2 linked regions of the Homo sapiens genome follow. The protein of the gene in region 1 interacts with the protein of each later gene in a biochemical or structural test. Each region holds a gene or a part of one and is shown on either strand. Other genes may lie near its edges.

What was found. Proteins that work in one complex are often made in the same cells at the same time.
Region 2: the proteins of SNU13 (region 1) and NUFIP1 form a complex in vitro, tested with the Homo sapiens proteins (one study listed by BioGRID).

What each region holds. Positions count from the first base shown.
Region 1 is NC_000022.11:41,687,332-41,691,083, reverse strand, and holds the start of SNU13 (NHP2-like protein 1), read left to right. Parts: upstream 1-2,287; coding exon 2,288-2,290; intron 2,291-2,756; coding exon of another isoform or gene 2,757-2,856; exon of another isoform or gene 2,857-3,366; intron 3,367-3,752.
Region 2 is NC_000013.11:44,940,862-44,944,613, forward strand, and holds part of NUFIP1 (FMR1-interacting protein NUFIP1), read right to left. Parts: intron 2,814-3,752; coding exon 2,581-2,813; intron 462-2,580; coding exon 345-461; 3' UTR 1-344. UniProt on the Homo sapiens protein: Binds RNA.

The sequences.
Region 1 (3,752 bases):
ACAATTTGCAAGTATAGCCCCTGGGACCTGCAGATGGATTGAATGTGTGGAGTGAGGGAAAGAGAGGAGCTCAGGGTGACTCCTGGGTTTGGGGCTTGGCCGATGCTCTCCCTGAGCAGCCTGAGTTTCCCTCTGATTCATTTCTGGTACACCAGGCATAAAACAAGGTCCTTGTAACAAGTGACAGAGACAATCATGGTGCTGAGGGAAGAAGGGTGAAGGTGTATGGGGCCCACTCACCTTGATGACATTCCTTGTGCTGAAGCGGGTCCTGGTGACCTGGTGCCAACAGTGCCGGACCTGCCAGACCAGAAAGAGGCAGAGGACAAGCAGGTTGCCACAGCACTGAGGGTCCCTGCAGCTGTGATTCTGGGAGAGCAGGCCCTGCACTGGCTCCCACTCAGGGCCATGGAATGGCCCCACCACAGCACAGGCACCCAGCAGTGACAACAACATGGCAAAGCTTAGATCAGGCAGATGGTGTTGGGAGCTAGAGGGCAGGCCTGGCACATCTGATGCAGCCAGCTGCAGTAGGATAGCCGCCACCTCATAGCACCCCTGTCACTGAGGCCACCTCACAAAGGGGGCTGATGCCCCAGCCTCAACTCTGACCCTGGTGCCAGGCCTGGTTAGCATGCTCTTGGTGCAGGTAAGGACAGTATTGGGGAATTGTTCAAAAGTAATTAGGAGGAAGAACTTGTTTTAAACAAACCCATCCTCTGGAATGAAAAGATTAAGTTCCCTGAATGTGTGATGGGGTGATATAACCTGCGGTCTGCTTGATTTCTTTCTTCCTATGAAATACTTGGATCTGCCTGTCCTTCTATTATCAAACATTTAATGAACACTGTATTGAATACATGTATTCTTGTTTAACCACTCAACATGCCTTTCTCGTTGCTTGCAGTATCCTGATTTCCTGTGGGGGAATTACTTTTCCCATCTTAGGATCAGTGTTGGTGGGAAAATAAATGTTACCCTGAAGACTCTTTTACCCAAAAGTTCTATTCAAAATATTAAATATCTGAGCAGGCAGGGACGTCAGCCAATTATAATGAGCCAGGCCTTAACTGTTTAGTGGCTGGAATTTTTTTTTTTTTTTTTGAGACCGAGTTTCCACTCTTGTTGCCCAGGCTGGAGTGCAATGGCGCGATCTCGGCTCACTGCAACTTCCACCTCCCAAGTTCAAGCGATTCTCCTGCCTCAACCTCCCGAGTAGCTGGGATTACAGGCATGCGCCACCACGCCCGGCTAATTTTGTATTTTTAGTAGAGACGGGGGTTTCTCCATATTGGTCAGGCTGGTATCGAACTCCCAACCTCAGGTGATCCGCCCGCCTCAGCTTCCCAAAGTGCTGGGATTACAGGCGTGAGCCACCGCACCCGGCCCTCTTTTTTTTCTTCTTTTTTTTGAGACGGAGTCTCACTCTGTTGCCCAGGCTGGAGTGCAGTGTGCAGTGGTGCGATCTCGGCTCACTGCAAGCTCCGCCTCCGGGGTTCACGGCATTCTCCTGCCTCGGCCTCCCGAGTAGCTGGGACTACAGGCGCCCGCCACCATGCCCGGCTAATTTTTTGTATTTTTAGTAGAGACGGTTCACTGTGTTAGCCAGGATGGTCTCGATCTCCTGACCTAGTGATCCGCCTGCCTCAGCCTCCCAAAGTGCTGCGATTACAGGCGGGAGCCACCGCACCCGGCCGGCCTTTTTTTTTTTTTTTTTGAGAGTCTCGCTCTGTCGCCTCAGCTGGAGTGCTAGAGTGCAGTGGCATGATCTCAACTTACTGTAGCCTCCACCTCCGGGGTTCAAGCGATTCTCCTGCTTCAGCCTCCTAAGTAGCTGGGGTTACAGGCGCCCGCCACCACGCCTGGCTAATTTTTGTATTTTTTAGTAGGGACGAGGTTTCGCCATGTTGGCCAGGCTGGTCTCGAACTCCTGTCCTCAGGTGATGCGCCCGCCTCGGCCTCCCAAAGTGCCGGGATTACAGCCATAAGCCGCTGCGGCCGGCCGGTGGGTTACTTTTTGAATGTTTAATTCATTGTTTCTGCCAATAATTTGTACTAGGCAGCTCATAAGAACGCCAAAGTACGTTCCTTCTTCGACACAGGGCCAGTTTCCGCGCCAGTGCCCCCGTAGAGGGCGGGGCCCACTCGCTCGCGTAGCGTCACCTTCGCTTCCTGCCGCGCGGGGCCATTTCCGCTGCTGCTTCTGTGAGTTTTTCCGGTGCACGCGAGTGCTTCTGAAACGTCAGCTGCGCTCCCCTAGGAGTGCTGAGCCCGCGGAACCGCAGCCATGGTGAGTGCGTGCGCCGGCCGAGGGACCGGGAAGCGGGAGACTCAGGGTTGCGTTCACTCCCTAGCCTGTTAGATGGAGGCTTAGAGCCTGCGCCGTCTCATCCGCCGGCGTTGGGTCTTAACCGCCGGGCCCTTAGTTAGAACCCCAGCAGCGGCGGGGTCCCAGCAGCCTGGCCCGAGGTTAGAACTCAGGAAACCTTAGGATCCCCGCAGCTGTGTTGCTTTGCCGCACGGTCTGTTTGCTTGGCAAAAGGCCTGCAGCGAGCGGAGGGGGCATGGCCCAGCCTGGGAGAAAGAGACCAACCCACGTGGGAGAGGGCAAAAAGTTGGGTGAAGAAAACTTGGCTCCAACTTTTTTTTTTCCTTGTTTCTTTTCATACGAAATCTACGATGGCGTGGGACCCTGGGATTCGGATCAACCTCTCCTACCCACCCTACCTCACCCCACCCCCGTTGCTGGGGTTCAGGAGGAGATCTCCCATGGGTCTGCGCTTAGTGCCCGCCGCGAGTCACACGCGCCAGGGACCTAGAGGAGCCTTTGGCATTTGGGGGCTGTGGGGAACATGAAGTGAGCGCGACTCACGGCCTGGAGTGCAGGAAAGGCTTCTCCTGCAAGGCGGTGGCTTCAAAAACCAGAAGTCTGGTAGCACCACGTGCGGCGTCTCTAAACTCTTGGTCGTCTCTGACTTTTAAACATCTAGGGAAAGTTCTAAAACGTGTGTCCTGGCGTAGTAGTTTTGGTTGGCACTTGGTGAGGAGGGAAGAATTTGTAAAGCACTGTAACTTCTATAGTTAATCCTTCCAGTGGAGCTTGGATCCCGGCGGTAGCACTCCCCACAAACCTCCTCCCATGCATTTTGAAGCTTAGTACGTGGCTGAGCCTAGAACTTGAAGCTTCCAAACTCAGTGCTCGCTTTAACGCAGCTCCCTGAAACGTTTTGGAATCGGATGGTCTCAGGTTGAACTTTGCAGTTTTCCTCAACTGTAAAATGGGGATGACAGTGCATGAGGGTGTTGTGAGGATCAAATGAAATAAAGCATGGTAAACATCTAGTCCTGATGCTTGGTACAGAGTAAGCACGCAGTATTTGTTGTTCAATCAAAACCTTGCAAGTTTTGGCTGTCTGGTGTACAGCGAAACCAAACTGATCATGCTAGGTAGGGATTTAGGTTGGCTGGTGGTATGATATCATTCGTTAATTTATTTAACCCCTGAAGAAATTGAAAGGCAAATAAATACACCCTAAGCAAGTTTCAATTAGTGTTTATAAGCTAGTTTGGTTTTAAAATTGAGTTTAACTTTTTTGTTGACTAATAGTGAAACATTTAGGTATTTAATGATTGTTCAGATTCCTGAAGTCTTCCTCTTTTATGAATTTGATGTTTATTGAGATTTGAGAATCCTGATTTCCAGAGAATGGGTTGTTGGAAACAATGGCAATTTTTAAAGTTTTTTTAAATTG
Region 2 (3,752 bases), on another chromosome or scaffold:
TAAAAGCTTTCTTCTTTACTGCTAAACCTATCTTCAATTCTTAACTAACACAACATCAGTCATTCTTACATGAGAACAATACATTAAAATAAATACAAAGAAAAAATTCTCCCAGCAAATACTAGATTCAATCCCAACAATACAGACACAGTCTTAAAAAATCAGTTATTTTTTTATTTGCATAGAACCAAAGGAAAGACTTAAAATTCCAACATACATCCTACGAGGCTTACAATTTAATTACAAATCCAATTTTGACGGAAAAAAGGGTTTTGGTTTTCCTCTACTAACGAGGATGATACTGTTTCACATGCTTCAGTTATGTATGCTGAAACACCAGATGCCTATACATCTTTACTTTTCGCAGAATTAGTATCCAGTCCAAAAAAGTCTTTTTTGATGATGTACCGAACACACTGCAAAATCACATTTCTTTCATGTCGAATGTCCGGAGCTAGAAGCTAAAACACAATTTAAAAAAAGATGAGGTAGTAAATAAATTATATCTGGGAAATACAATCTAAAATATTGCATGTACCCTCACCATATAAAGAAGACAGAACAATAAGAAATATGTATTATATTCACTATTTTGCTAAAAAACGATGCAAGAACATGTCCTTTTAATTTATATCAAGACTATCTAGCTTTTTATTTATTTATTTATTTTGAGACGGAGTCTCGCTCTGTTGCCCAGGCTGGAGTGCAGTGGCGGGATCTCAGCTCACTGCAAGCTCCGCCTCCCGGGTTCACGCCATTCTCCTGCCTCAGCCTCCCGAGTAGCTGGGACTACAGACACCCGCCACCATGCCCGGCTAATTTTTTGTATTTTTAGTAGAAACGGGGTTTCACCGTGTTAGCCAGGATGGTCTCGATCTCCTGACCTTGTGATCCACCCGCCTCGGCATCCCAAAGTGCTGGGATTACAGGCGTGAGCCACCATGCCCGGCCAAGACAATCTAGCTTTTTAAACAGTACTAACGCTTATATTTGGAGTCCTCTCTAAGAGTATCTAGCATAGGACAGGAAAATAGGTTTAAACGTCTGCGATTCTTTTTTTTTTGAGACAGAGTTCCACTCTTGTTGCCTAGGCTGGAGTGCAATCATGCGATCTCAGCTCACCATAACCTCCGCCTCCCGGGTTCAAGCAATTATCCTGCCTCAGCCTCCCGAGTAGCTGGGATTACAGGCATGCTCCACCATGCCCGGCTAAAAAGTCTGCAATTCTTTAATCTAAAATTATGTCAAAGAGGATTGCCCAAACCCAAATTCATAAGCAGTCTAGAAATTGGTAAGTACATCTATTTACATGTAACAATGAAAATAGCAGTAAAAACTTCCAACATTCCTTGACTTTTATAACTTTCCATTTTTGTGCTTATTGTAATTAAAAGAAAGCTAGAAATCCCTGGTATTTAGAACAAGCACATAATCAAGGAATCACATGTAGTTTGCCAAAAAGGAATTTATTTTATTTTCTGGTGTTATTGATAGAGTTCAGAAACATCATACAGAAACTTTCAGTGGAAAGCTCACTTAATTTACCAATTATAAGGTAACTTTTTAAAATGTAATTTACTATGTATACAAAATGGAGCGTATATTTCAGATCCATTTTAATAGGAAGCAACTGTGCTACATGTAGCACCTCAAGAGTGTAGCCACTGAACACTTTAGCTACAAAATAAGTACTTAACTTGTAAGTCAAAACCAAACAGACTTTTCACAGAATGTCAAGTTTTATAACTCCACTAAAAAATGTAAAATACTTCTATTGCTTAGACATGAAAATCTTTGATTTTCAAACAGCTTCATGTCCACTACTGAGAACTTGAAGATGCATTGCTTCCTCTTTATAATTTGAAGAAAGCTATTAGATTTTTGAGCACATAATGCTGAGAATAAAGCCACGAATGCACAGAATAAACACAAATAAATAAAGGTGTACAAAGAAAAAAAATTAGCATGGTAGTGCATGCCCATAGTCCCAGCTACTTGGGAGGCTGGGGCAGTAGGATCACTTGAGCCCAGGAATTCGAGGCCACAGTGAGCTATGATCACGCCACTACACTCCAGCTTGGGTGACAAAGCAAGACCTCAACTCTTAAAAAAAAAAAAAAAAAAAATAGGTGGAGGAGGGAGGGAAGGAAGACAATCCCAGAAGATAACAAATGAGAATTGTCAGAAAACCTTAGGCCTTTCCTTTTTGTTACTGTATGGTTCTCAATAGACATTTGTACTAAAAATCTTTTTTTCCCTTCAGCTTGCCATTGTACTTTTAGCTGTGCTTTCACTGGAAACTTAAAAGAAAGTCAATAAACCTCAGTAGATACTTCCTTACCAACTAGTGAAACCTAAATTTATTTTAAGTGGTTGTAAAAATTACATTATTCCACATTCACTGAATATACCAGCTATATGCCAAATGTAGCTACAGAATTAAGATACAAAGTCTCCAAGGTCAATGTGTCTCTGGTAACCTTAAAACAAACACACACACACACACACACACACACCCCAGTGGCTCTATCTTTATGATGTGAGAACACAAAGATTAGAACCTAAAGAAAAATAATTTACCATTTCCAAGAGATATGGATGGTGTGTTCTTGGTTCGAATAACGTTTGATAGTTGTGATAATCTTTTTTCCTCTTAGGGTTTGTTTTTTCAAAGCTTTTCTTTCGGTTCTCACTCTTGGCTTCTGAAAAATTTCTAACAGTTGCTTTAACATCTTGACTTGGACTCTTAGGAGCACTGCTATCAAGAACCTGGTTTTCTGCCAAAACGTCTGCTTCAGTCTTGATGGGAGTTTCTAAGTGTGATGAAAAACAAACACAAAAATAAACAAAACAAAACAAAACAGGTAGACCTTTCAAAAGCAACCAACAAATCCATAATAATCCTCCTAGCCATAATATTGTTCACTTAATAACTTAAAACTATGAAAGATTTTTGCAAGGCATTTATAATGTATTCTAGTATTTTTCAAATTGGAAGCTGTAACTACCAAAAATTGAGAAGACTACCATGAAGAGCTACAGAAAGTGATCTCTATGAAAGAAATAATGCCAGATGGAAACTTGGATCTATACAAAGGAAGGATAAGTGCTGGAAAAAGTAAATATGTGAATAAATATAAAAGACTTTTTTTCCTCATTGGCAAAATTTTAAAACTAAAGCAAAAATATTAAGTGTATGTGCAATTTATAACATCTATAGAAATAAAATCTCTGACAACAATAGTAAAAAGGCAGAAGGAATATGTAAGTAGTATACACTGTAAAATCTTAAATTACATGTGAAGTAGATATCATTTGAAAGTACACGATGAAAAGTTAAGCTGCATACTATAAACTGCAGACCAACTCCTAAAAAGTAAAACAAAGAAGTCAAAAGGATGAAAGAAGATACCAAGCATATACCAATCACATGAACGCCGAAAGTCTGTATTAATGTCAGACAAAAAAGACTTCAGAACAGTGAACATCACCAGGGATGAAGTGGAACAGTTCATAATGCTAAAGGGGTCAATTCGTCAATAAGACAAAGAATAACACCTAAGAACAGATTTTCAATATGCATTGCAGCGAAAACTGATAGAACTGAGAAGAGAATTAGACAAATCCATTATTATGATTGAATATTGAACGTTCCAATCTCAGTAATTAAAGAAAAATTGGACAGAAAATTCGTAGGGATACAAAATATCACTAACGATTAACTCAAATTGACAAAGAACACCCGACCTAAT